Homo sapiens: one gene and its partners. The protein of the gene in region 2 interacts with the protein of the main gene of each other region in a pairwise test. Each region holds a gene or a part of one and is shown on either strand. Other genes may lie near its edges. The genes, in order: PPT1, PLEKHG7, RAB7A and NF2.

Region 1 (8,195 bases), on a different chromosome or scaffold from region 2:
TCATGTGGGTGGCAGGGGAAGCTGGTCTGCATGGAGAGAAAGAAGCAGCGACACAGAGAGAGAAGCAACAATGGCACTGGAGAGAGAATACCCTGGCTCCTCATGGCTCCCAATTCTTGATTCTAGGCCCTATGAGGCTTTAGGCACCAACAGAGTATTACTTTCTTTTAAAATTTACTTTGGCTTGATATGGGTTTCTTCTTGCAACCAGAATTAATCCTCCCTAATACCAGGGGCAACCTGGGACAGTATCACAAAGACAAAATGATTTCTCTTTATTACTTTAAGCCTTCACCATCTGCTCTGCTAAAACAGTTCTCACACTCATTCATCTGCTTGCTTGCTTTCAAAAACATGTTGCCATTTTTTATGATCTCTTACCTCCTCTCTCCCTGTTCTCTCTGCCCTTGTGGGTTTATCACTTTTTATTCTTCTGCTACCACTTAATTAAAGTTTAAGGAGGAAGTGAAGATAAACACATCAATCTATAGCTTTTAATCAGTATTTTTTATTTTTATTTTTTGAGACAGAGTCTCACTCTGTCATCTAGGTTGGGGTGCAGTGGTGCGATCTCAGCTCACTGCAACCTCCGCCTTCTGGGTGCAAGCAATTCTCTAGCCTCAGCCTCCGGAGTGGCTGAGACTACAGGTGTGCACCACCACGCCTGCCTAATTTTTGTATTTTTAGTAGAGATGGGGTTTTGCCATGTTGGCCAGGCTGGTCTTGAACTCCAGGCCTCAAGTGATCTGCCTACCAAGGCCTCCCAAAGTGCTGGGATAACAGGCATGAGCCACTGCGCCCCGCCTTAATCAGTATTTAGGTGTCACTTGTCACCCCCCGACGGACTGCTCACTTAGCATCACTAACAGAATTCTGATCGCCAAGGGTTGTTTTGGTTCACACAAAGAAAGAAAAGTATAGGCGTTTTGGAGGCAACTGGGCAAGAGTGAGAATAAAGAGTAAAGGAAGAAGAATGAAGTTTAAATACCATGCAAATCCATGAGAACAGAGAATATGTAGAATATAAATAATTAAGTTGTAATTAGCCACAGCCAATCAAACCAGGCAAAGGGGAAAGCTTGGTGTAGCCTGAGGGTAAAAAAAAGGAGCTAGAGGTACAGAGTATCTTAGTTTTCTATAATAACCATCAGGTGGTACTGCTGACCCAAAACAGCTTTGTGGCTATTTGTGTAGCCAACGAGTGGGAAAAGAAAAGACAGCTATTAGCTGTAGGTGGTTACAACATGAGTCAGTCACAAGGCTGTATCTTGGAAAATGGCTTCAAGAATATACTGTAATAAAAAGTTGTTATTTGACAAGAATGAGACACTTGGAAAACCCACAGGATATTAGTTGATCCCAAACTCCAGCTATCATCAAGAGCACGTCAGACCTACCATCAAAACTTTTTTTTTTTTTTTTTTGAGACGGAGTCTCCCTCTGTTGCCTAGGCTAGAGTGCAGTGGCGCAATCTCGGCTCACTGCAAGCTCCGCCTCCCGGGTTTTTTAAGTGATTCTCCTGCCTCAGCCTCCTGACTAGCTGAGATTACAGGCGTGCGCCACCACGCCCAGTTAATTTTTGCATTTTTAATAGAGACGGGATTTCACCATGTTGGTTAGGCTGGTCTTGAACTCTTGACCTCATGATCCACCTGCCTCCACCTCCCAAAGTGCTGGGATTACAGGCGTGAGCCACCATGCCCGGCCCACAACTTCTAAGGATAAAGCCCAGGAATCCATTTTTAATGAATTTCCCTGTGGTTCTGATATACAATTAAGTTTGGAACCAACTGAACAAGCACATACTACAAAAGTAATTCTGCATCTTTTTTTTTTTAAAAATAGATTTTAACAGAGACAGGGGTCTCACTATGTTGTTCAGACTGGTTGTGAACTTCTGGCTTCAAGCAATCCTCCTGCCTTGGCCTCTCAAAGAGCTGGGATTACAAGTGTGAGCCATTATGCCAGGCTGGCCATGCTAAATACCCAAATACATTTGAGTAGTCAGGGACAGTGATATAGGGAGTAGCTAATGACATAAAGAATCTGTCCTCTAAATACCAACAATAATTCCTTGAGCTTAGTACTTTCTAAAGGCTTTCTGTTTGTTTTTTAAGGATGGAAATTTATTCTGTTATAATTACATTCTTCTTACATAGAAAAATGCCCTTGTTTTTCTTTCTTTGTTTTTTAGTTAATAGACTTTTTGGAGCAAGTTTAGGTTTACAATGAAATTGAGCAGATAGTACAAAAAGATCTCATTTGAAGGCCGGGTGTGGTGGCTCACGCCTGTAATCCCAGCACTTTGGGAGGCCAAGGTGGGTGGGTCACCTGAGCTCGGGAAGTTGGAGACCAGCCTAAACAACATGGAGAAACCCAGTCTCTTCTGAAAATACAAAATTAGCCAGGCGTAGTGGCGCATGCCTGTAATCCCAGCTACTCGGAGGCGGAGGCAGGAGACTCGCTTGAACCTGGGAGGCAGAGGTTGCAGTGAGACAAAATCACGCCACTGCCCTCCAGCCTGGGCAACAAGAGCGAAACTCCATCTCAAAAAAAAAGATCTCATTTGAATATCACAAGGAACTACTGCTGGAATCACTGTGAGCATGAAAGTCAGCATGATATTTTCACACGGTGACAGGTCTGTAATCTTTTCAGCTAACCATACATACCGTTCCTGAACAACTTTGGAGTACGCCCCAGCATTCAGTGTTTTTCGGATGAAGTCACAGATGTGAGAGCTCTCTCCTGGGCATCGAGGGAGTCCAAAAACACCTACAGTGGTAGATGACAAATATCCACTCCTTCAATAATGATGTATCGAATACCCACTATGCACAAGGCACTGTGAGAAACAAAATGAACAGGACCAAACTCTGATTTCATTCACTTATTCCTCATGAAAATAAAGCGCAGAGAACTAATACTATCACCAGCTTCCTCCTGGTGCTGCTACACTCTTTCCTGCCTAAGGATCTTTTTACCTGCTCATCCCTGGAGGATGTGTTGCATCACATGGCTGGACGCATTTTCAGCTCTCAGGTCTTGGTCCTACACAAGTCACATCTGACCACCTTATCTCAAATAGTACCCACCCCCATTTCCTTCCCCTCCCCCAGTTATACTTCATCCTTAGCATCCTCATCAATAACATTGTTTTGAGTAACACAAATAGTTCTAAGCAAAATATTGGCAATAATTAATTTAATCCTCACAACCACCCTGTGGAGTAGATTTCATTATTTGCCCTATATCACAGATAGAAAACTGTAAAAATGAGGTTAAATACCTTGTCCAAGGTTAGACAATAAGGTATAAGCCAGGATTCAGACACAGGCAGTTTGGCCCCAGAGCCCACTCCTTTAAGCACTACAACCACTAGTGTGTCCTTCGAACAGTATCCTGTTGTTTTTTTCCAAGAGATTGGGTCTTGCTATGTTGCCTAGACTAAAGTGCAATGGCTATTCACAGGCACAATTACAGCACACCACAGTGTCTTGAACTCCTGGCTTCAAATGATCCTCCAGCCTCAGCCTCCCAAGTAGCAGGGACTACAGGTGTACACCACCATGTGCCCAGCTATCCTCCATTTTATCGTGTATATATATATATGTGTGTGTGTATATATGTGTATATAAGTGCATATGTGTGTATATATATGTCTATATATGTCTATGTATGTGTGTATATAGGTGCATATGTGTATATATATGTCTATGTATGTATGTGCATATATGTGCACATGTGTGTGTGTATATATATATATTTCATGAATGCAAGAACCTTGTCTGTCTTGTTCCTGGCATATAATAGGTTTTCAATAAATATTTGTTAAATGAATGAATAATAAAGCTGTTTTTACCAACTTACGTTTGTATAATCCTTATACTTTTAAAAAGTATTTTCCTACCTATTATTTCACTTTATCCTCTGAAAAATTCCCATAGGACAGGCAGGGCCATATTTTGGTTTCTTCCATCTGTGAGTGGAACCTAAGATACCAAATTACTTGCCTAGGAGTAATAGTTAATTGGGTGAGTCCAGGTTTCCTGATTACACGGAGAATCATTCTGCTCCCACATTATACCAGCTAATAGCTATACCCATCAACAACAGAGATGAAATTCCATTCTAATGACACATCCTTCCCCAATAGTATGGAATTCCGTCAAAATAGAAAACCTGCTGTTTCTCAAAGAGTTTAAATTTATAGACACAAGAGCTTACACACTATTCTTTGCCTAAGCCTAAATTCAAGAGGATACCACCAAATCAGAGAACAGAAAAGGTCACTCAATTTTCCTAACTCCTCAACCACCACCTGCCACGTGGCTATAACCATCTTACTTCCATGCAATCGTGTCAATGAAATTGGAGAGAAGTAGATGCCAACCTAGTGATCCAGGCCTCTGGAATCCTAAGTCTCTTCCTATGTCTCCAGCAATGCTGGCTAGTTTGTTAAAAGCTAGAGAAACAGGATTTTGCAAGAATGGCTGATGTCTTGTGCAAATATAGTTCCTAGATTTTTTTTTAAATCAGGTGGTCATGTGGGTTAGAATACAGAAAAAAGAAAGCAAAGAGGCAAAGTTACCTTGATGTTGTCCCCCAACCGAGATCAGATTGATCATGGGAGGTGAAGGGCATCTCTGAGCCACTGCCCTCCTACGGAATAAAAGGGAGTTTTAGCTCCGACTGTCAGATGGAAATGTATCATCCACAATCAGCATCACAGATTAAGCTAGTCATCCTCTGTGACTCCCCAAACCCGCAGAGTTTCAGGATTTTCCTGATATGGGCAAATGCAAATATTTCTTTCAACTTTCATAGAAAATAAATTAAGCTCCAGCCAGGCATGGTGGCTCACACCTGTAATCTCAGCACTTTGGGAGGCTGAGGTGGGTGGACTACCTGAGGTCAGGAGTTCGAGACCAGCCTAGACAACATGGTAAAACCCCATCTCTACTAAAAATACAAAAAATTAGCTAGGTGTGGTGGTGAGCACCTATAGTCCCAGCTACTCGGGAGGCTGAGGCAGGAGAATCACTTGAACCTGGGACGTGGAGGTTGCAGTGAGCTGAGATCGCGCCACTGCACTCCAGCCTGGGCAACAAGAGAGAAATTCTGTCTCAAAAAAAAAAAAAAAAGAAAAGAAATTAAGTTCCATAAAGCTTCTTACACAGGAACATTTTAGGAAATTTCCCTTCCAAGATAGGTGACAATCTTGAATTGGAGGAGTGGATTTATCTGAATAAAAGAAACAAAAATCAATTCCATATAAGTGGTACAATATAACAAAAAGGAACGTACAGAAATTGGCCTCCCTGGGAGAATCCCATAGCATTGTAGCCTTGCTGCAATTTAGGATCCTTAGCAAGTGCCTGACACACTGTTGTTACTTGGGAATTGACATTCAAGAAGAAGCTGTTCTCCACGTCCTAAAAAAGAAGCCAGAGAGAAGTGAGAGGATGGGACTGAAAACAACCACTGACATCTTCTCTAAGAGGTAAACTCATTTAGGTTGGTATCCTCACATGAGCCACTCAAGGGTGAAAGTATCACTGTATGATCTGCTGCTGAAAACACAAGGCAAAGCATTTTAACAGTATATGCTATGAAATCAGTCAGCAACCCTTCAAAGGAACAGCTGTGAAGCGCCTTACCTCCATCAGGGTCTTCCCAATCTCTAAAGATAAGACGTAAATTCCAGGTATTTTCTTCTCCACCATTTTTTTAATAGCACCCATGCTTAAGGGATTGCAACAGCTGTCTCCTAGCCAACAAAACACAATGATGGAAACTCATGAGTCCAAATATTGTTTATTGTTTAAAAACTCTGAGGCCTCAAACAGCATTATCAAGGATGTGAAAACAATGTATAGAATGGAAGAAAATATTTGCAAAACAGTTATCTGATAAGGGCTTAATATCCAGAATATACAAGGAATCTATAACTCACTTACAACTCAACAAAAAGATAACCTAATTTAAAAATGGGAAAAGAAATTAAACAGATATTTTTCCAAAGAAGATATACAAATGGCTAACCACTGGCATGTGAAATGCAAACCAAAACCACGATGAGATACCATTTCACACAGACTAGGATGTCTTTAATAATAATTTTTTAATAGAAAATAACAAGTATTGTCAACGATGTAGAAAAATGGGACCCCTTGGACATTGCTGGTGGGAATGTAATAAGCAGCCACTGTGAAAAACAGTTTGGTGGTTTCTCAAAAAGTTAAACATACGATTACTAAATGACTCAGCAATTCAACTCCTAGTTATACACCCCAAAGAAATAAAAACACACGTCCATGCAGAAACTTGCATATAGATGTTAACAGCAGCAGTGTTTGTAATAGTCAAAAGGGAGAAACAATCCAGCAGTCCATCAATGAATGAATGAATAAAATGTGGTATATTCACACAATGGAATATTACTGAGTTATAAAAAAGGAACAAAGTGCTGACACATGTTACAACTTGAATGAACCTCAGAAACATTATACTAAGTGAAAGAAGCCAGACTCAAAAAGCCACATAATGCATGATTCCTTTCATAGGATAAATAAAGAACAGGCAAATCCACTGAGATACAGAAAACTAAGCTGGAGATTATCAAGAAGTAGTAGGAGGGGGCAATAGGGAGTGATTGCTTAATGGCTATGTGTGTTTTTCTGGGGTGTTGAAAAAGAAGTGTTAGTTGCACAACATTGCAAATACACTAAATGCCACTGAATCGTACCATTTTAAATGGTTAACTTTACATGAATTTTTACCTCAATTTTAAAAAACAGAAGAAAGAACATTTTTTGCTTAGCTCCTGTTTATCAAGTAATAACAAGCTTCAAAAGTCCATACAGGAGCTGGGTGTCATGGCTCACGTCTGTAATCCCAGCAGTTTGGGAGGCCGAGGTGGGTGGATCACAAGGTCAGGAGCTCGAGACCAGCCTGGGCAACATGGTGAAACCCCATCTCTACTAAATATACAAAAATTAGCCGGGTGTGGTGGCACATGTCTGTAGTCCCGCTACTTGGGGGGCTGAGGCAGGAGAATCGCTTGAAACTGAAAGGTGGAGGTTTCAGTGAGCCAAGATCATGCCACTGCACTCCAGCCTGGGCAACAGAACAAGGCTCCATCTCAAAAAAAAAAAAAAAAAAAAATCCATATAGGCCAAGCATGGGCTCATACCTATCATCCCAGCGCTTTGGTAAGACGAGGCAGGAGGATTGCTTGAGGCCAAGAGTTCGAGACCAGTTTGGGCAACATAACGAGACCCTGTCTCAAAAAAACCAAAAAGCCCATATAGGATAATTAAGACACCAAATTTACAAATGAAAAATAAGCAGAGGTACACATTCCCTTCCCCTATCACAGGGGATATTTGGGGTGAACAGATGCAAAGTTTTCTCTTCAGGGCCAGGACTAGGGTGAGGCAAATTAAGCATCTAGGACAGCGGTCTTCAACCTTTTTGGCACCAGGGACCAGGTTTGTGGAAGACAATTTTTCAAAACTGTTCCACCTCAGATCATCAGGCATTTGCTAGATTCTCATAAGGAGCACCCAATCCAGATCCCTCACATGCGCAGTTCACAACAGCATTTGAGCTCTTTGAGAATCTAATGCCACTGCTGATCTGACAGGAGGTAGAGCTCATGGTGGTAAGGCTGCAGGCTCACTCACCTCCTGCTGTGTGGCTAGTTCCTAACAGGTCACAGACCCAGGGAGTTTGGGACCCCCGCTCTAGGGCACAAAATTTAAGGAGGCACTCATTCTCAGGTTTATGTAAGTGTTGACCCTGAATTTGAGAGTGAGTGCCTCCTTAAATTTGCACTTCAGGAGCCTCTTCATCTTGTCCTAGCCCCAGACTTGTTTCTTCTATTTCAGGGAACTAGAACTAGGAACAGGAAGCAAACTGGCTACTGAGTAGAAGTGGACTGAGATCATTTCCCATTTTGAACTTACTTATTCCATTTTCAACCTGCGAGAAAGCTTAAGCACCAATTTTAGAACAAGAAAAGGCTACTGCCTAGAGAATTGTCTATTCCTTTTATTTCTCTGAAAACAACGTTCTCCACACTGAGCTGTAATTGTAGGTTACTTAACTGCCTCTGCCTCCCCTGTAACTGACTGTGAGCTCTGGGAAAACACAAAGCTCCTACCCTGTGTCCTCTTTTGACCCCACTGTAG
Region 2 (5,162 bases):
TGCATAAACTTACTAAATTTATGTAAAATTGTATAAAATAGAATTAGAAGTCACTAAGTTCTTTCTGTGTAGAAGTAATAAATTTATTGTAACACAATGCAGTTGTGTATATGACATTCTGTAATTCCTTGAACTGGATCATATATTCATAAGTTCTGTAGATACTTATGCATGAACATTTTCTCATTTAGTTTTTGGGTTCATTATTTGTATTGTGTTTACTACTTGTGATCATGTAGTTGTGCCTTACTTTGTGAGAAAGGTTAGCTCAGTAAATACTGCAATTTCTAAACTCAGTGATTGGAAGGTTATTAATTATAAATGTAACTGATAAAGTACGTGACAGCATTTAAATCTGTATAAAGAACAATGGAAGGATCCTTATTGAATTGTTGCTTTTTTTTAATATGTTTAAATATTATATTAAAAACATTTCTTTCTAAACTAGTTGTATTCTGTGACTATAAATTGTTTTGTCTAACAAAAGAGAGAACACTGTATTAACCATTTTGCATTAATTTATTTACAGAATATTAGGACTTTGCACTTGGATATAGACAGTGGTGTTTTAATGTTGTTCAATTTCGAATAGTAATTAAATTCCTGATCTCAAGAGAAATTATTAATGCCATTTTGCCTTAGACATTCCATTTAATATTGTAGAGAATTAACAAAACTAAAAACAAATATAAAAAATATGTAATTAACCCCTTATTTCATTGTGTGTCTGCATTTAATACCCAGATGACCATTTAAAGATACTTAAAACATTATTTATTTATTTATTTATTTATTTTTCTCCCTCCCCTCCCCAAAGATACTTTTTGGAAGGCCCAATGTGCCATTGTTTTTTGCTATTTTTTCTTCCTGGGAGCCACGGTTCTAGAATGGTTTTTGTTCTGACCCCCGTGATCCCTTCATTCGAATGTGCTTCATTCTAAACCCTCCAAAGAGTTTAATGTGCATATCCTCAAACATCTAATATATTGTATATTAGACATGTTACTTTGTGAGCTTTATAGAATTCCAGTTTATGTACAGCATATTCTTGAGCTGTTTTATATATTTTGTTAATTTAGTCAGTCTGTCTCTCCCTTTAATGAGATTCAGAGGGAGAAAACTACCTTTATACATGTAAGTCTGTGGTTGCTGGATTCATGGGACTAAAGGAATTTGAGAGGCCACCTCATCCTAGTCCACTGCTCACCTCCGAGGTTAGTTTATATCTAAACATTTGCAAGATGATTGTTAATGTAAAAATTTTTTTTAACCAGAAATTTCTTTATAAAATCTTCTCTTGCATAATCTATATTGTATTCTCCTGGACATAACTGCTTTCAGTCCCATCCAGATGCCATCTCTAGGAATTCACTTGAAGCTTGAAGTCTATTCTCCCCTTTTTCTCCCCTCCACCTCATTTATTCTTAGCTATTAACAATAGTTACTGTCCTCCAGATTTTCCTTTTTTTCTTCTATTAAATTTCTGACATTATTATAAAGAGGTTATTAGTCTCCATTCTAATAGTGCTTGCCTTGTACAAAAGCCTTTCTGCTGCACTTGTCTTTACTGCTTTGTTTGCATAGTGAAATTTCACCTTCCTCAAGGAATTACTGGGCACATGACTTGCCCAAACATTATCCTCTCTACCCCATTCTTCAGCTTAACAAAATCAGCTAAGGCTTCAGTTGTCTTGCAGCCAAATTTGATAAATTTACTACTTTCACTTTGCAAATTGCAAAAGGTACGATTCTGAAATGGAAGTTTGTGGACTTCCCTTTGATGCAATAATCTGACCCTAAGAACTAGTTCCTTGAATGTAGTTAATAGTATATATCCTGCCATGATAATAATTATTCAAACTGCCTTTCATGATAAAAATTCTGAAGAAATTTGAAGTCCTGCCAAATAAAATTAAGTGACTGTACTGTGCTAACACACACACACACACACACACACACCAATCAAAACCAGAAAGTATTTTTATGGCAAACACCATCATTCTTCAAAAAATAAAGTTAAGAGACAGATACCTTACTATGTCTATGAAAATCTGTACACTTCACAACAGGCCAAGAAAAGCCATGCAAAAGTGTTAACTGGTGAAAGCCAGATTTTTTTTTTCTTCCTATCTTAAAGTAATGGAATTTAGTCTTTGGGATTTTCTACTTCCACGTTAGAGTACTATATACCTGAGATGAGTTTGAGAATAGGAATTTTAAAACTGCTACTTAAATGTAGTCCCTATTTATTGCTTTGTATATTAAAAGAACAATCAAGCTTTGTATCTAAAGATTTATCATTATGTTTGAGGTAGGACTATAAAGCGGTTAAGACTGATTGACAGGCCATGAAGGAAAATTGGTTTCATTATTTTATGGATACAGAGTAAGATGCTGGAGTTCATATTGGACATAAGCAGTGGACATTGTTTTCCTTCTGATACTCCATTTATCTGATCATTCACCCTTTACAAATTAGCACCTTTCTTCACTCACACCTCTTACAAACCTGACGGAAGCATTAGAAGGTAATCTGGATGTCAGTATATATTTGTCAAGAAATTCCTCAGAGTTCAAATTTGTTGCAGTCATTATTCCTCTATACTGAGGATTTTCCTAGCTCAAAATTTCAAATTCTGAAACTTCTTTAAAATGCAAATTTCCTTCTAGCTTATCACTAGCTAAGTGTTACAAAACTTTGAATGAAATTATACCTTAAACCATAATCTTCTAAAAAGACATGCCACTTGTTTTAGGTCCCTAAATTTCAGAGGATTCTGCGGGCAATGTGAATAAAGATATTTTCTTGGTTTCCTGACTCTTGGTAAAGCAAGAAATTGCAGTTGTTATTTGTGCCATCCATGTTTTCTGTTGAAAAAAAGAAAAAAATACATAAATAGAGATTAGAATGTTAAGCTGACAATTTCTCACATATTTGGGCTAATATTTTCTGCTATATTTATTGACCAGCTCTTTAAAACTGAAGACTAATGAAACATTTGCATATGTTTCCCATTTTCTTTCTTACATCTAATATAAATACTTCTAATCTTACAGGAAAATGCAGATGGGCTAAATGAGTATGGTATGCATGTTGGATAACAGTTATGAGTAATCAAGAAACAATAGTCAATGATAACTCATTAGAAAAATGAGCACTGAGAATATATGTAGTTTGAAAGTGGCATTGCTGGAATTTCTATTCTCTGTGGAAACAAGTTCTTAACCTGTAGTATAACTTGAAAGAGACTGAGGGCAGTGACCCAGGAAATTGAATATTGCATTTGTTGTCTGGCCACATTGTAGATATGATGAAAGCCTACCAGGGGAAATACAAAAATAGAAACTTCTAAGACAGAGAAACCAGAGTCAGGCAGCTGCTCTTTCAACTCCATAGCTGTAAAAACAATGGCAGTTTTTCAAAGGTTGACAAGCTGACTTGACAGGGATCATTATTGCGCCAGGCCCTCCTTAAGCTAATATCCTATTATATGCACTTTGGAAACTGATTGGAGCATCTTAAAGGTTCATCATGCAATCCAAATCAATTCTTCCCCCATTTCCTACAGAAACTGTAGAACGCAGGCAGTTCTTGAGCTTCTGCAGGAGAACTCTGCAAGCGTGAGGAAATTGTTCCTCAACCCCGCAAGTGTGAGGAAATTGTTCCTCAACCCCACAAGTGTGAGGAAATTGTCAATACTGAGGCTTTTGAGCATTATATGGACTAGATGTACCCCTCCCCTCCTCCCAAATCTGCCCTTCCCAAGTGGGTGAGAGAAAAACACAAAACTTTCCATTCACTGTTACTTAAGACACTTGGGGGGAGCTTATGTAAACTCTGAAGAATCAAAGACCTACAAAATTAAAATACATACTTTGATGTTTTCCGTTTGGGCTTGTAATAAGAATGCTGCTATACACTGTCGATATCTGTTTTCGTGTTGTATAAGAAAAGCATTTCTCAGCCCAAAGACTAGAAAAAGATATTACAAAGACAAAAAGCCAAATCATTTCATATGAAATCCAAACAATTTCTTAGTACAAGAATCTGGGGTTTGTTTTCTATTTGGCTTGTTTCTGTTTTAACGAGGGTGGGAGGTTTATCTAGCTTATAATTTTTTTTTAAATTTTATTTCAATGCCAAGACCCCACCACTATGTCCAAATAAAGCCTACTCTACTATAAAAACCCTTTCTTCCTTAGCTAATGACTTCTGATACTTGATGAAATGCAACTAAGGCTTAGGTAATGGGGCCCCTGCTCGTAGAACAAGCTAAACATATGCGGTAGATTTTTTTGTGTATGAAAATATAGATAATAAAAATATACAAAACAATATAATATTTTCTTCTTTGTTCTTCACCACTCCTTTAAAAAATTTTATTTTTGTGTTTAAAGGGAAGTCACATCCAACCAAGGTTTATAAACAAATTAAGATGTGGCAAAAATACAAAACCACCTGAATACTTCAGGCCAAGAAAAGCCAAAAACCACTCAAAATCCAGCATCCACCAAACTGGGTGAAATGTAAAACAAAACAAAAAGAGACATTGGCATGGTTTCTGTGTTTGCAAAAGAAAGCCTGTTCTGTCATTTCCTAGCTGGCCTCAAAGAAAAGATAGTGGGAGAGCAGACTTCTTTTTCTAATATAGCAGGAGCGCTTAAAATGAAAGTCTCTTCTTTGAATTATTAATACAACACAGTCCTGAAGCTTACACATTCTTTTTTCTCTCTTTTTTTTTTTTTCTTGAGACGAAGTCTCTCACTGTCGCCCGGGCTGGAGTGCAGTGGCGGGATCTCGGCTCACTGTACCTCTGCCTCCCAGGTTCACATGGTTCTCCTGCTTCAGCCTCCTGAGTAGCTGGGATTACAGGCGCCCGCCACCACGCCTGGCTAATTTTTTTGTGTTTTTAGTCGAGACGGGGGTTTCACTTTGTTGGCCAGGCTGGTCTCGAACTCCTAACCTCATGATCCACCCAACCTCGGCGTCCCAAAGTGCTAGGATTATAGGCATGAGCCACCGCGCCCGCCCTATACATTCTTTCTATAGTCAGTGTTTAGAAACAAACAAACAAAAACAGGCCAGGGCTGTCTCCTGCCCACATCAAGTACTTCAGGAAAGAGAAAAAGTGAGCAAGTGACATATTCTTGCTGATCATTAA
Region 3 (8,195 bases), on a different chromosome or scaffold from region 2:
TGACATGAAATAATGTGTCATTCCTGTGCTGGAATTTAACTGTATTCAACTGTATTTAAATTTTTTTAAATTTAAATACTGTTAAATAACTTTATTTAACAGTATTTAAATTTATCTGTATGTGCTGGATTTAAACTGTACGTGCTGGAATTTAACTGCCTCCAACAGTTCTTTTTCCCTTTGCCAAGACAGCCATCAATACTCCTATCACGGCTGCTCCTTTGGTTGGAGTAAGAATGATGCAGAGCCTCTAGAAAACCCATGCTCTTTTTGACCACTTTGAGGTTATTGGTTACTACAGCATAACCTAGCTTATTCTGTCTGATAGTGCTTGAAGATTCACCACCTGAAAATCTATGTTTCAAAAGAAACAGACTAGTCTGAAATCCCTCTTTTAAAAACATTTAAATAAAACTGAATGATAAAATGTACAAAGGCTGTTCTTCCGCAGAAGATGCTATTATTCTTCTGCCATTATTAAAGAATTATCTGTCAACTTGGAATACTGGATGCTAGTCCCAGTCCCACTAACACACAGTGGCTCCAAGATACTGAGCATGACCTTTTAGTCCATTTCCTCATCTAAAAAAAAAAAAAGAGACAAATCAAATGCTGCTTAAATTGTGAAGTTTAAACAAGGTAACAACCTCTATGAAATGTAAAGACATTGTTTATGTACTTTGCTCTGAGTACTGCATTCCTGCTGGGAGGGAAAAGGCAAAGGCAACTTACACAAAGAAGAGTGTCTTGGAAGGCAATTCTTGTGAAGAGGACTTCACTCCTGGATCAATAGATTCTTCAATACGATGCACCACTGTCATCAAGCTTTCTGAACCCAGGTACTAAGCCAAAAGTTTAGTCTCTAACGAGAGACCAGGATGATTCCTGCCTTTTTTTCTTTTTGGTAAGGCAAACTGGAAAGCAGATAGCTAGTAAAACAGTTACATAAGAACTATCTTCGATAGTTTGATATCAACCCTAGATTATCTCAGGCATTTAACCAGTAAAACAGACTGCCCATAAATTGCTAAGAGGAGCCCACAATGGGCTGGCTAAAGAGGAAAACCAAACTAACTGCTCTCTTCCTCTATCCCACCTCCCCTAACCAGCTCCCATGTTTAACTTTTCATTAAAGCCACTTCTGAAGAAGCAACTCTCTGAAAGTTTAAGCACAACTCTTGTAGTATTTCAATCCTAGCCCACTAAGCTCTTAATGTATGGTTTCTTTAGACAAATTACAACATCAAAGCCATTCCTCACCCATAACTGGGGTACTATCTGACTTAATTGTGAGGTTCAAGTGACAGGATTATGCTGTGTCTATTCCAGCATTACAGAGTGAAGTGCCACTTGGTTGAACTTAAATCCTCTAACAAGGGATTGCAGTGCCTGCCCTCCCTACCAGGATCTGGTTTCCATACATACAGTCATTCCCAAATTAGAGCTACTGCAATCCCTACATCCATTCATTGACTTATGCCATTCTTTCCAACTATAATGGTTTCCCAACTCTCACCTGCCTACCAATTTATTTAAAAATCCACTCAACATGCCCCTCACCACCCCAGGCATTGAACAACTCTAAACTAAGTAACTCTCATCTGCCCTGTATTTACAATTATTCCTGAATAATTCTCCACAGGGGCCAACAGTGTTTTCTTATAGTAGAGAAGAAAAACCTGTTAAATGAACACAGAACACATAGTTCATCATTCAGGAAACCCACATATATTAACCACTGACCCAGAAGCATAACTTACATGCTATAAACGGTAACTTACTCTGAAAAGCTAGAACTGGAAAAAATTTAAACAAAAGCTTAGTAATATTTCAAGATCCATTCTAGAATAATGATTCATCCTTGTCCTCAAGTGGCTTAGAGTTGGAAGACAGGCAAAGTCATGTAATATTATTTCAATCAAACTAAGGTCTATAATGGATACACAAAGCTGAAGATCACGCAGCCAAAAGGCTGGTGGTGAAAGGCCCACTAATATCTGAAGGGTCAGTCAGAATATGCAAAACAGACCTATTTCTAGCATATGTACGATAGAATGTGATATTCTAAGGGCTCAAGTGTCTGACCAAAAAAGAGAGTTGGAATGAAAGCACCATCTACTATGGTTAGATCTACACCCCACAGATTACTCTTTCACAGGCCAATTCCACCACCAGGAATGGAGTCCAGACTATAAAAGTAAGCTATGGGCAACTATGGAAGACTAACTGCTCATTCACTGGACTGAAGCGGTGTTTTCCTTTCTTTCTTTTCTTTCCTTTTTTTTTTTTTTTTTTTTTTTGAGGTAGGGTCTCATTCTGTCGCCCAGGCTAGAGTGCAGTGGTGAAATCTCAGCTCCACCTCCCAGGTTCAAGCGATTCTCATGCAACATCCACCTCCCAGGTTCGAGCGATTGTCATGTCTCAGCCTCCCAAGTAGCTGGAATTACAAGTGCCCACCACCACGCCTGGCTAATTTTTTGTATTTTCAGTAGACACAGGGTTTCGCTATGTTGGCCAGGCTGGTCTTGAACTCCTGGCCTCAAGTGATCCGCCCACCTCGGTCTCCCAAAGTGCTGGGATTACAGGCATGAGCCACTGTGCCTGGCCGAACCTCTGCTTTTAACCCCAATGGATTTAAGTAGCATTTACAAGAGGTAGTCTCAAACTGACACGTTTTACTCCAGGATAACCTTCCCCAGTCCCTTGAGGTTCCCCTACACTGGTGAGTAAACAAGCTGTACCATGGTGCCATAAAGAAATGGCTTTCTACCAGAGGGAACTAAAATTAGAGAGAAAAAGTTACAAGTGCTAGCAAGGATGTGGAATATTTGGACTTCTTATATACTGCTGGTGGAAGAATACGCTGGTACAACTTTTGAAAACTGGCCATATCTACTAGAGCAGAATAGATACTCTTATGAAGTGAACTGTGTCCACCTAAAATTTTTAAGTTGAAATTCTAATCCCCAATATATCAGAATGTGACTTATTTGCAGACAGGGCCTTTAAAGAAGTAACTGAGGTTAAGTGAGGTCATAAGGGTGGGCCTCAATCCAATACGACTGGTGTCCTAAAAGAAAAGGAGAATAGGACACAGCCAATACAGAGGAAAGATCCTGTGAAGATACAGGGAAGAGAAGACAGTCATTTACAAACCAAGGAGAGGCTTCAGAAGAAACTAATCCTCCCGACAGCTTGACCTCAGATTTCTAACCTTCAGAATTGAGAAAATAAATTTCTGTTTAAGCCACTCTATCTGTGATACTTGTTACGGCAGCCCTAGCAAATGAATACAGACACATACCCTAAAACTCAGTCTTTTTACTTAAATACATTATGATATATCACATAATACTACTGAGCAATGGAAACTCCAGTTACAACTGTACACAACAACACAAAGTCTCACAAACAACACTGAGTCAAAGAAACCAGATACGCAAGAATACACAGTGTATGATTCCATTTACACAAAATCCAAATCAGGCAAAATTAGTCTACAGTTCTAGAAATCAGAAGACTCACTACGCAAGCATCAGGGCATCGATGATAATGACTTAAAGGAGACTAAGAGGGCCTCTGGGTTTATAAAAATTCTCTAAGCCGTCCACTTATTTGTGCACTTTTCTGTATATATGTATGTTTACTAAAATACAGAAATGATAAATTACTTGGAAATACAGGCAACAATGTACTTATCCAGTGTTACCATGGCAAATAAACCTTACTCTGGAGCTGGATGCATCAGGTTCCTCACTCGTTACCAACAAACATTTGAAAAATACAGCTATTCCTATGATCCCCAGCTTCTCATCATTCAGTGTCTACTAGGAGAAGTATCACAGGTCACATCACCCAAGAGTATCTGGTCTCCTCCACAGTTAAATTCTCACATCATTTTTGGGGAGAGTTCAATTTCTTTTTTCTTGAGACAGGGTCTTGCTCTGCCACCCAGGCTGGAGTGCAGTGCCACGAACACAAACCACTGCAGCCTTAAACTCCTGGAATCAAGTGATCCTCCCGTCTCAGCCTCCCACCATCTGGAACCACAAGTGTACCACCACACCCACCTAATTTTTTCTTTTCTTTGTAGAGATGGAGTCTTACTTTGTTGCTGAAGGTGGTCTTGAACTCCTGGGCTCAAGCAATCCTCCTGCCTTACCCTCCCAAAGTGCTGGGATTACTCCTCCCAAAGTACTGACCACCATGCCTGGCCAAGAGTTCAATCTCATTAAAGGAAGGTATGAAAGTATACATTCAAAGGAAGAAAATAACCAGTTAACACTTTGGTCTTCCTCGGGGTAGTGAATCACAAATTTTCCTTCTTTATATTTCTGAATTTTCCTAGCTTTTTTTTTTTAACTGAATAGTTTAATAATCAGCAAAAAAGACGTATCATTTTAAATAAAAGGTAGTGGGCCAGGCGTGGTGGTTCACGCCTGTAATCCCAGCACCTTGGGAGGCCAAGGCGGGCGGATCACAGGGTCAAGGGATTGAGACCATCCTGGCCAACATGGTGAAACCCCATCTATACTAAAAATACAAAAATTAGCTGGGCATGGTGACGTGCACCTGTAGCCCCAGCTACTCAGGAGGCTGAGGCAGGAGAATTGCTTGAACCCGAGAGGCGGAGGTTGCAGTGAGCCGAGATCATGCTACTGCACTCCAGCCTGGCGACAGAGCTTGACTCTGTCTCAGAGAGAGAAAAAAAAAAAAGGTAGTGGAAGAAAGAGACACTTTTTTTTTTTTTTGAGATGGAATCTTGCTCTGTCGCCAGGCTGGAGTGCAATGGCACGATCCCGGCTCACTGCAAGCTCCGCCTCCCCAGTTCAAGCGATTCTACTACCTCAGCCTCCTGAATAGCTGGGACTACAGTGCATGCCACTATGCCCAGCTAATTTTTATATTTTTAGTATAGACGGGGTTTCACCACGTTGGCCAGGATGGTCTCTATCTCTTGACCCTGTGATCCACCCTCCTCGGCCTCCCAAAGTGCTGGGATTACAGGTGTGAGCCATCGCCCCCGGCCGAAAGATACACTTTTACAAGGGGTGAAATGTCGTGGTCTTTAGGGCACTAGCATATAATGGAAAGGCAGGATGGTACATCAGAAAGAGCACTGAACTGAGTTAGCAGACCTAGACTGACATTCCAGCTGAGCCACCTGAGCATACAGCCTCAGCTATTTCAGGCAGATACACACAACAGTTGTGAGCACCAAATGAAATCACATGTAAACTACAAATACCACAGAAACATTAAAAAGCATTTAAAGGCAAATGTGTAGGAAGGTTTCTACAAAATGTTATCGCTTTTTTAACAACCATTAACATGGTGCAGGTCAGAGGATTTAAGAGTGGGTTTTAAATGACCCGCAGTTATCTCAGGGATCCTCATATCTGTAAGTGAACAGAAGAACTGTTGGTAGGCTGACTGAATACCACATATAAGGGACACTATTTTTCATAAAGTCTATGCTTGGTTATTTAAGGTTAATTCATAGCAGCTTTGTAATTATGCACTCTCAAATAACTCAAACTACAAAGCTTATTCAATGGAAACCAACTTTTTATTACACTTACATACCAATATTGGAAATCAATGATGTAACTATTTACTTCACTAAGTAACTTTTAAAGGACTCCTGATCTGAGATGGTTAATGCCCAGCAGTATGAAGCAAAGCTGGAAAGGAAAGGCTGAGGGAGAAGAGAGAACTTCCTTTCCTTTATCTGGCAGCAGCCACACAAGAAGGACCAACTAAGAGACAAGCAAGGCTGGAGAATTCCTAAACTGCCCTTGTCCCAGGCTCCCCTTAAATAGGCTCCCTTGGATTTGCTTGGTCCCAACTGTAGACAGTCCCAGGACACCAGAAGTGGACAACAGAATCAGGCAAACTTAAATTTCTCAGCAGTGATGCCATCACCAAAACAGAGACTCCAGGCCCCATGAGTTAAGTACTGCATCTTCAAGCAAATGAACAAGGCCAATGCTGTAGGTCAGCATTGGAACCAACTCCCAAGCTTTCTTCCTCCCACAAGGAGATATTTTGCAAGTAGCTATTCTTAAATATGTTTTTGTAATCACAGCCTGGGATACTAAAATTGAAACTGGTAACAGACACTGCTAAAAAACTTGTTTTGATTTCACTCGCCACATCACTTTTACCTCTGATTCACAAATCGCAGTGACCACCACCATTAAGAAATGTTTTAAAAATAAGTTTTAGGCTGGGCATGGTGGCTCACGCCTGTAATTCCAGCACTTTGGGAGGCCGAGGCGGGTGGATCACGAGGTCAGGAGATCAAGACCAATCTGGCTAACACGGTGAAACCCCGTCTCTACTAAAAATACAAAAATTAGCCGGGCGTGGTGGTGGGTGCCTGTAGTCCCAGCTACTCGGGAGGCTGAGGCAGGAGAATGGCATGAATCTGGAAGGTGGAGCTTGCAGTGAGCTGAGATGGCACCACTGCACTCCAGCCTGGGCTACAAAGCAAGATTCCGTCTAAAAAAAAAAAAAAAGTTTTAAAACACAAACTATTTTTCTGTCTTTAATGCCATATGGAGTGTGGGGAAAAACAGAATAGAAGATTTAAGAGCAAATAACTGAAAAGATCAGCATATTGCAAAAATGTTTCTGCAGCAAACTGCAGACAGAGAAGCATAGAGAACTATTAGATAATATTAACAGATAAGCATGTGGTAACACAAAGGAATGGATGCCTGAGAATACAATGGTAGCCTTCCTTACATGAGAGGTAAGAATCATCAACAGCAAGCCAATAGCCAAAAAATAAGGGGGGAGGCGGGGAGTTCATTTCTCGAGTTTCAGTCGCCTTCAGAAGAAGACATTTAATGCCAAGGGGAACCTCTGTTTAGCCTTATTCAGGAGGACTTCTAATCCTTACCTCCCCAGGAAAAGCCTGCCTACAGCTCCAAGTCCAACATCTGGTCAAATCTATCTCAGCTGTATTTGTTGAATTAAATGAATGGGGAGATAAATACTTTATCATAGGAAAAACTAAAATATTTGTGTCAAATGCCAGAGAGGAATGTGCATAAGACAACTGTCATATTTGCGTGGTCTGTGTTTGCTACATCTTTGTTTACAAAGTCTAATGCCAAAGTAAGAGCAAAAACGTTATTAGTGAAGATCCCTTTGAAGACTTTTTTTTTTTTTTTTTTTGAGAAGAAGTCTCGCTCTGTCGCCCAGGCTGGAGTGCAGCGGCATGATCTCTGCTCACTGCAAGCCCTGCCTCCTGGGTTCACGCCATTCTCCTGCCTCAGCCTCACGAGTAGCTGGGACTACAGGCGCCCGCCACCACGCCCGGCTAATTTTTTGTATTTTTAGTAGAGATGGGGTTTCACTGTGTTAGCCAGGATGGTCTCGATCTCCTGACCTCATGATCCACCTGCCTCGGCCTCCCAAAGTGCTGGGATTACAGGCGTGAGCCACCGTGCCCAGCTGAAGACATATTAAAAGCTAATCAAATAACCAAAATTTTTTGGCTTCACTTGGCAGTGGGGTCAGAAAACTGATTCAAAGCCACACTTTACTATAAAGAGTTGTTCTCTGATTACAGGGTTGGTGAGCTTAGACACAGTTGGCACTAAAAAAAAATTTTAAAAAAAATTGCCCCAAGTGGTTGCTAACTACCTAGAAGGATATACTAATAAAACTATTTTTAGACTATCTTCTACATTCCACCCTCTGTTTACTTATGCAGTTCTACCACAAATGTAAAATCCAAATCTTCCCTTAAAGAAGGGAATCTAGAAAGTTGTGGGAGATAGGGTAACACAGCTTTTCTATGTAGAATGGTACTGAAACTATGGCCAGTACACTATCAGTGCTACATTAAACTTTCTTGCCAGCTGAAGAAAAAAATCCAGCATGCCAAATGTACCTTTGCTCAAAGACATGGCAGTGCAAGGTAATTACAGTAGTGACATGGACTACCTCTTGAGTGAACAAAAAAATGCTACCAGAGTCGGCCGGGCGCAGTGGCTCATGCCTGTAATCCCAGCACTTTTCGGAGGCCGAGACAGGCGGATCACCTGAGGTAGGCAGTTCGAGACCAGCCTGACCAACATGGAGAAAACCTGTCTCTACTAAAAATACAAGATTAGCTGGGCATGGTGGCGCATGCCTGTAATTCCAGCCACTCGGGAGGCTGAGGCAGGAGAATGGCTTGA
Region 4 (7,912 bases), on a different chromosome or scaffold from region 2:
CAGGGATGTTCAGTGTCATTTTGTTCAAAATTGCAAAAGAAAACAGACTAAATACTCATCCATGAGGGACTGGTTAAATAAATTACAATCCATCCACACAACAAAACATGATTAAAAAGCTGATATGGATGATCTCCTTCAGGATTGACTGCTAAGAGGAAAGAGCAGTTACAGCAGTGTATAAGCTTTGCTCCAGTGTATATTTTAAAAACAACACATATAGGCTGGGCACAGTGGCTCATGCCTATAATCCCAGCACTTTGGGAAGCTGAGGCAGGCAGATCACTTGAGCTCGGGAGTTTGAGACCAGCTGTGGCAACATGGCAAAACCCTGTCCCTACCAAATAAAAAAAAAAATTAGCTGGGCGTGGTGGTGCATGTCTGTGGTCCCAGCTACTCAGGAGACTGGGGCGGGAAGATCGCTTGAGCCTATGAGGCTAAGGTTGCAGTGAGCCGAGATTCTGCCACCGCATTCCAGCCTGGGTGACAGAGTAAATAAAACTCTCTCTCTCTAAAAAAAAAAATAATAAATAAAATAAAAAATAAAAACATAACACATCTCAGGTGTTCAGCCCAGTTGACTGCTCAGACGACTCCAGTCCCAGCTACCATCTGACTGTGACCACCAGAGAGATCCCCAGCAAGGATCTCTGTCTGGCCCAGTCAACCCAACAAGCCACCAGAGGTACTAACAAAGCCACACAGCTGGCTTGGGTGGGTTGTTACACAGTAACGGAGAACCGGGATATACGGCAACAGCAAACTGCTTACATTTTCCCCACCTCAAACCCTGGGCAGCTTGTGCCTCTGGTGCCCTTTGTGCATCTGGGTCATGTATGTGCCTGTGCCATGTGCATGAATGTAAGTATGGGTGCGTGTGTGTCCGTGCTGTGTGTGTGGATGTGCTATGTGCATCAATGTATGTATGGGTACGTGTGTGTGTCTGTGCCATGTAGATGACTGTGCTGTGTGTGAGTCTGGGCCATGTGTGCATCTGTGCCCTCACCCTGAATACCCTATGTTCTCTTCTCCACCTGGCTACTTCCTGCTCCCCCTTCAAGCATCAGTGTAGACACCACACTGAGCCTCTCCTGCTCCTCCAGGGTGGGCTGTGTCCTCCTCCTCTAGGCACCTGTGCACCCTGAGAACACCTGTCAGGATAGAGACTTCCAACTGCATGGCACTATGTGGACACTGAACAAATATGAAAAAAAAAAAAATGCCAAACTGAATGCACAGAAGAAAGGAAGGAAAGAGGCTTCTATTCATTTTGTGACCCCATTTAATGGAAGTCTGACTCTCTGTCCCCAAACTGAGAGTGGCTGCTCGTTCTTGCACGGCAGTAATTCACTCTGAGGTGTACAGCCAATCCCTTCCCAGAACTATAATTATGATATATGGTATATACTGATAGTTGAAGATTACATTCAGCTCAGCATTAAGAGGCAAGAGAGCAAATTCTCTTGAGGATAATTTGGGACTATATTACTTAGAAAAAGAAAAACATTCCAGAGCTGGAAAAGGCCCTGTTGCCTGTTATCCAGGCAACCAAAGAGACAACTAACTAGTCCAAAGCCAAATGGCAGACCAGGATGTTCTACCCAGTCCCTAACTGCAGGCTCTCTGCACCTCTCATCCAGCCATGTGTTTGCCTGAATGGTCACCCTGAAGGCACCGCCAGATGAACTGAAGGGCCGGGAGGAAAGAGAACATCACCAGGACTAAGGCAGCCCCAGCTGGTGGCCCCCAGGCTCACCGGGTACGTGGGCTTGGTGGCAATCTCCAGGAGCTTCTGCTTGGCTCTTCGCTCCGCCTCGCGTGCTTCCTGCAGGTCCTGCTTCAGCTGATCTGCCTCTTTGGCCCTGCAAGGAAAGGATGAGATGTCAGCTTCACAGAAGAGGGCAGGTAGCAGGAAAAGACACCACCCCACCCCTGCAGAGGAGGGACCTGGGCTAACCCTGAGGATGGCACCCAAAGAGGTGAAAAAGGACAGTGAGACAGGGATATTTACATGAAATCAGAACTTCCAAGCAAGGACAACATTCCTGAGGACTTTTGTTTGAGTTGGTAAATCTAAACTGGAAGAGCAGGAAAACTGGTGGGGAATGAGAGAAACCAGACCTTCTGCAGCCAGGAGACAGAGGAGCTGGAGAGGGCACCAGCAGCTTTCTCTGCTTTATTTTTGGGTGAGAGTGAGCTGGGCAAAGGAAGAACCTGGAGGATCAAAGTTCTTATATTGGATCGCAAAGGGCAGAATGTGCAAGAACTGCGTCTTCACAGCCCCCGGATAAAACACCAGTGGGCCTTGTGCCCACTTTCTCCAGCAGAAAGATGAGCCCAGTCACTGAGGGCACCCGCACCCTGGTGCAGATCCTCATCCTATGGGGCTCAGGTGGTCACGGCATGTGAGGCCTGGTGCAGGGACCTGGCCCAACCTGCATCATGCACAGGGAGTGACCCCCGAATACAGTAAGGGGCCTGAAGCAGGGCAGGCAAAAAGGAACCATATTCCCAGAACGACATGCAAAGCGTGGTGAGGAAAACTGTAGTGAATGCACCTTGGTAGCTAAAAGCCAAATTCAAGTGCTCTAAATCAACAGAGCCAAAAGCTGTGGGGAATGTGTCAGTGTTTATCTGAAGGTTGCAGGCCTAGAATAGTCTTTCAAAAGTACAGACAACAGTTCCATCCTTCAACCTGGCCATGAGTGGGACATCCCAGTCACAGAGATCATCCTAGCCCTCCTCCCCCATGTGCCAAGAAAGGCTGGGGGATGCAGGCACTAGCTTCCCTTTAAAGGTAGGCAGCTGCTGTTCTCCTGCAGCCCCACTGAATGAAAGCAGAAAAGAACCACACTTTTTTTAAATGCACAAAGAGCCTCCTCACATCTCTTCAGCTGAAAGCGGTCTGTGGATATGCTCAGGGGTTTTCCTGCACACACGGCCATCAGAGGGACAGGGGCTTATCAAAGAGACACAAGTATGACCAGAGAGGCCCCCCTGGAGGGGGAACTGAGTTCCTGTGCCCAACCAGTAGCGCCAGCCCCAAAATGGATAAAGCACCAGTCACCATCAGCCAAGGAGGAGCCTCCCCACGGCCCAGAAGATGGGCAAGCAGCTTGAGGACAACTGCTGTAGAGCTCAGCCTCAGGGCAGGCTGGTCTGCGGCCCTTCGCCAGCCTCCTCGCCAGTCTGGTGCCCGGTGCCCCCTCACCTCCTCTCTGACTCCTCAGCCATCTTCAGTGCCAGCACCTCGGCTTCCAGCACCTTCTGCTCCATCAGGCGCTTCTCCTCCTCCGTGCGAATCGCTGTGGCCTTGATGCGCTGCATTTCCTGCTCAGCCTCTGCGGCCTTCTGGGCCAGAAGTTTTGCCTCCTCCTCGGTGATCTGGGCCTTTTCAGCCAACAGGTCAGCTGTCTCCTCAGACCGCATCTGGAGGGCACAGTGCTCTTAGCTGAAGTGGGATCATGTGCTGTTCTCCCGCCCAGATCTGCCTTGAACACTGAGATGGGACAAACCAGAGTCTCGGACTCCTGGGGCCCTGCTGCTGAGTGCCCTCCATGACCCTCTGACAAGAAATGACAAGCCACATTCCCCAACTTTTCAGAAGGGCCCTTCGGGCTGCACCCATGGGGAGTAACAAGAGCACCTTCTCTGAGTACCCACCTCAGCTCAGGCTTATGCTTCACGTGGAGAAAAACAACTTAAACTCTGTTCTTTCCCTTTAAATCAGTGGTTAGAACCAGAGGAGTTTTTTGTCCCCTGCAAGAGACATGTGGCAGGTGGGGCACGGTGGCTCACGCCTATAATCCCAGCCTTTTGGGAGGCTGAGGCGGGCAGATCACCTGAGGTCAGGAGTTCAAGACCAGCCTGGCTAACATGGTGAAAACCCATTTCTACTAAAAATACAAAAAAAAAAAAGCTGGATGTGTTGGCGCGCACCTGTAATCCCAGCTACTTGGGAGGCTGAGGCAGGAGAATCGCTTGAACCCAGGAGGCGGAGGTTGCAGTGAGCCAAGATCATGCCATTGCACTCCAGCTTGGGCAACAAGAGTGAAACTCCATCTCAAAAAAAAAAAATAAAAGTACAGCTGGGCACGGTGGCTAACACCTATAATCCCAGCACTTTGGGAGGCTGAGGCGGGCAGATCACGAGGTCAGGAGTTCGAAACCAGCCTGACCAACATGGGGAAACCCCATCTCTACTAAAAATACAAAAATTAGCTGGGCATGGTGATGCATGCCTGTAATCCCAGCTGCTCAGGAGGCTGAGGCAGGAGAATTGCTTGAACCTGGGAGGTGAAGATTGCAGTAAGCTGAGATCGTGCCACTGTACACTCCAGCCTAGGCAACAGAGCGAGACTCCGTCTCAAAAAAAAAAAAAAAAAAAAGAGACATGTGGCAATGTCTGAAGATGTTTTGGATTGTTACAAATGGAGGGTGAGGTGCTGCTACTGGGATCTAGTTCCTACAGCAAAGGATGGTCAGCCCCAAATGTCAGTAGTGCCCAGGCTGAGAAGCCCTGCTATAAAGGCAACCTCGTGGTGAAAGTGGAGTTTGGCTGCACATAAGCTCAACCTAAATCTGCTTCTGCCAACACAGGTGAAAAGAAAAGGCACTGATTTTTTCAAAGCTGAAATTAAGTATTTCAAAGCAAACGCTGCTAACTCATGGTTTTCAGGAGACCAAGCTCCAGAAAAGCCAAGGAAGTCCCCAAGTAGCCTCCTGGAACCCCAGCCCCTCAGAAATCACCAGTGCTTCGTTGGCCATTGTTGCTTCTTCTTTCATCTGCAGCAGCCTCCTCTCCAACTCATCCCTCGTGCGTTCAGCCTCCTCCCTCATCTGCTTCTCTCGAGCGAGGCGCTGCCGCTCCATCTGCGAGGGGTGAAGAAAAACAGTCATTGAATCACAGGGCTCGAGACCTAGGGTGCCACAAGGGCCCAAAGATGCCCCATCTCCAGTCTCCCCTTTTGGGACCTTTTTCCTTCCCTTTCCTTTAGGTAGCCAGGGTCATTCTTATTGCCCCCCACCCCGTCCTTCTAAACCAGTTGCAGAGTTGAAAGCTGTGCCACTTGAAAAACAGTCTAGTGGTGAATGAACAAATGAACAAACAATAAAAACCTGTTGAGTCTTGACCCGGATAGAAAAAGGCATTCTTTTTTTTTGGTGGAGGGGACAGAGTTTTGCTCTGTCACCCAGGCTGGAGTGCAGTGGCGCGATCTCGGCTCACTGCAACCTCCGCCTCCCAGGTTCAATCAATTCTCCTGCCTCAGCCTCCCGAGTAGCTGGGACTATAGGCACCCGCCACCATGCCTGGCTAATTTTTGTATTTTTAGTAGAGATCAGGTTTCACCATATTGGCCAGGCTGGTCTTGAACTCCTGACCTTATGATCCACCCACCTTGGCCTCCCAAAGTGCTGGGATTACAGGCATGAGCCGCCGCGCCTGGCAGAAGGAGGCATTCTTATACACGGTGCACTGAAATGGCTACCTTGCCAATGTTGCTTTTTGTTGGGAAACCCCAGGTGGCTCTGCCCCATGGCCGATGGGATGCAATGCAGGACCTCCTCCCTCAGATAGAGCCCCAGAAATAAGCAGCTTTCTCATCTGGGCAGGCAAGCCATCTCACCATTTCTAATCCACATGGACCCCTCTCACATCTCTGATTTCATCAACAATAGCTCCACTCTTGCCTCTGACCCACAGAGAAGATGGAATCATTCTACGTGATGCATCAATAGTTCACACATTGTATTTCACAGGGGGGAGCTGCAACAGCCACAGCACAGACTTGCACAGCCTCATGTGGAGACAACTCCTGAGCCAGGCCTAGGACAGGAGGGAGCCAGGCGGGAAACACAGCCCCGTGTCCTTAAGGCAACAGCACAAAGCCACCACTACCTCCCTTGCCTTCTGGATCACTGCATTAATTGGGCCACATGCTGAGCTTAATAAGGGGAACAAGCACAAGACAGTGCCATTCCTCTGTGATCCCAGGGTACTAACTGAGTTCAAAAAGCAGAACCCAGAAGTGACCACTGCACTATTTTCTGCCTTAAATAATTAAAGCACATTTAATTACTTCTTGCTTCAATCTTATCCCACACTCTGGTCATACAAGGTTTCTAAGACTGCTGCTTTTTCTAAATCCTAAGCCAAATACACACACACACACACACACACACACACACACACAAGCTCAAAAAGATAATGCAAAGACAAGCAATAAAACAGTGAAAGTTCTTCTCCAATTTTCTCCTTGTAAGTCAATGAAAAGCTTGGCCAATTTGTTCTCTAATTTCCATCATATTACAATTTCCATAAGGTGGCTTACTACATATCTACAATTCTTTTAAAAAAAAAGAAACTAAGAAAGAAAGAAAGAAAAAGCCCAGTCAGGCCAGGCAGGCATAGCAGCTCATGCCTGTAACCCTAGCACTTTGGGGGGCTGAAGTAGGAGGAATGTTTGAGCCCAGGAGTTTGAGATCAGCCTGGGTAACATAGCAAGACCTGATCTCTACGAAACAATTAAAATTAACTAGGTGTGGTAGCATGCACTTGTAGTCCCAGCTACTTGAGGGGCTGAGGCAGAAGGATTGCTCAAGCCCAGGAGCTTGAGGTTACAGTGAGCTATGATGGCACCACTGCACTCCAGCCTCAGTGACAGAACAAGACCCTTTTATTAAAAAAAAAAGCCAGGTAATCTCCTTCAGTTCCTGGCCCTGTACTTTCCCTGAGACCTCTACCCCAATATAAAAGACCTCCTATTCACAAAAGAAGTTTACTGCATACAAAGACTGTAAGGTGTAATATACGTCCCTTCATCTGAGATGGAGAAGGTATATCATTAGTTTCACCTGATGGATGAGAAAACTAAGGTCTGGAAGGTAAGTCATTGACTTACTCACATTCTAAATTTCAGATCTGGCTCCAAGGTCAGTGTCTGTCCACCTGATCTGTGGTTGCCCAGATGCCAGGTTTGTGGCTCTGCTGTGCTGTAAGCAGTGCCGATCTGCAGTGTTCCTGCTATTCTCTGCCAGGGCCCACAGACTGCATATTCCCTGACACTTTCAGATTTCTTACTTCTAAGCTTTGCTCTGCTAAGAAAAAGGTCAAAGAAAGCTCTCCTCCTCCTTCTTATTTATTTACTTATTTATTTATTTATTTTGGTATTTTGTTTCTGCTTCTGTTTTAAAACAGGGTCTTGCTTGGTCACCCAGGCTGGAATGTAGTGGTGCAATCATAGCTCACTGCAGCCTCAAATTCCTAGGCAAGTGATCCTCCTGCCTTGGCCTCCCAAAGTGCTGGAGTTATAGGGATGAGCCACTGCCACGAGCTCTTCATGAAACTGCCACTATGACCCCATGCTGGCTCAGTAGGATTTCTTTGTCCAACAAATCCATCCCATCACCCTGAAAGCATCCCAAAGAACACATTTGTGGCCCACTACCTCAGAAAGCAAAGAGATAGAGAGCTGAAAGCACACTGGGCATTTCATTCTAAATCCTAGGGCTGGGACCAGCCTCTCCAATGTATCCAAATCAGAAAGGTGCACACAGACTAATTATTACACTTCTGAGCTTGCAAGTCCTGCGGGCAGCCAACTGCAGCTGCTGCTACTCTATCTAGTAGTTTATCCAAAAACACAATTGATATTCTCAGCAGTAAGGCCCAAATTAGTTGTGTGGATTTCCATGAGCAGAGAAGGTTTATGAGTAGAAAACAATGATGCAGATCATCCAGTCTGCTGATAGATGCTCCTGGCACCTCCTGGGGCAGGTGACATGCCATAAGGCCTGACCTGCAGTGGGGAATTGCAGCCAGAGTCAAATTAGCATTCCAGCCGCAAGCACTGAAATGCCACCTGGCATTCTATCACCATCTAATTAGAAAAGGAGAAGGCTGCACAAGGAG

The links.
Region 1: the proteins of PLEKHG7 (region 2) and PPT1 interact in binary tests that used the Homo sapiens proteins (3 or more experiments, as listed by UniProt).
Region 3: the proteins of PLEKHG7 (region 2) and RAB7A interact in binary tests that used the Homo sapiens proteins (3 or more experiments, as listed by UniProt).
Region 4: the proteins of PLEKHG7 (region 2) and NF2 interact in binary tests that used the Homo sapiens proteins (3 or more experiments, as listed by UniProt).

Annotation. Positions count from the first base shown.
Region 1 is NC_000001.11:40,086,738-40,094,932, forward strand, and holds part of PPT1 (palmitoyl-protein thioesterase 1 isoform 1 precursor), read right to left. Parts: intron 5,771-8,195; coding exon 5,661-5,770; intron 5,436-5,660; coding exon 5,308-5,435; intron 4,663-5,307; coding exon 4,592-4,662; intron 2,776-4,591; coding exon 2,673-2,775; intron 1-2,672. UniProt on the Homo sapiens protein: Has thioesterase activity against fatty acid thioesters with 14 -18 carbons, including palmitoyl-CoA, S-palmitoyl-N-acetylcysteamine, and palmitoylated proteins. In contrast to PPT2, PPT1 can hydrolyze palmitoylated proteins and palmitoylcysteine.
Region 2 is NC_000012.12:92,767,794-92,772,955, reverse strand, and holds the end of PLEKHG7 (pleckstrin homology domain-containing family G member 7), read right to left. Parts: intron 3,974-5,162; coding exon 3,876-3,973; intron 2,869-3,875; coding exon 2,761-2,868; 3' UTR 501-2,760; downstream 1-500.
Region 3 is NC_000003.12:128,728,560-128,736,754, reverse strand, and holds part of RAB7A (ras-related protein Rab-7a), read right to left. Parts: intron 1-8,195.
Region 4 is NC_000022.11:29,668,786-29,676,697, reverse strand, and holds part of NF2 (merlin), read right to left. Parts: intron 4,873-7,912; coding exon 4,750-4,872; intron 3,430-4,749; coding exon 3,212-3,429; intron 1,863-3,211; coding exon 1,757-1,862; intron 1-1,756. UniProt on the Homo sapiens protein: Probable regulator of the Hippo/SWH (Sav/Wts/Hpo) signaling pathway, a signaling pathway that plays a pivotal role in tumor suppression by restricting proliferation and promoting apoptosis.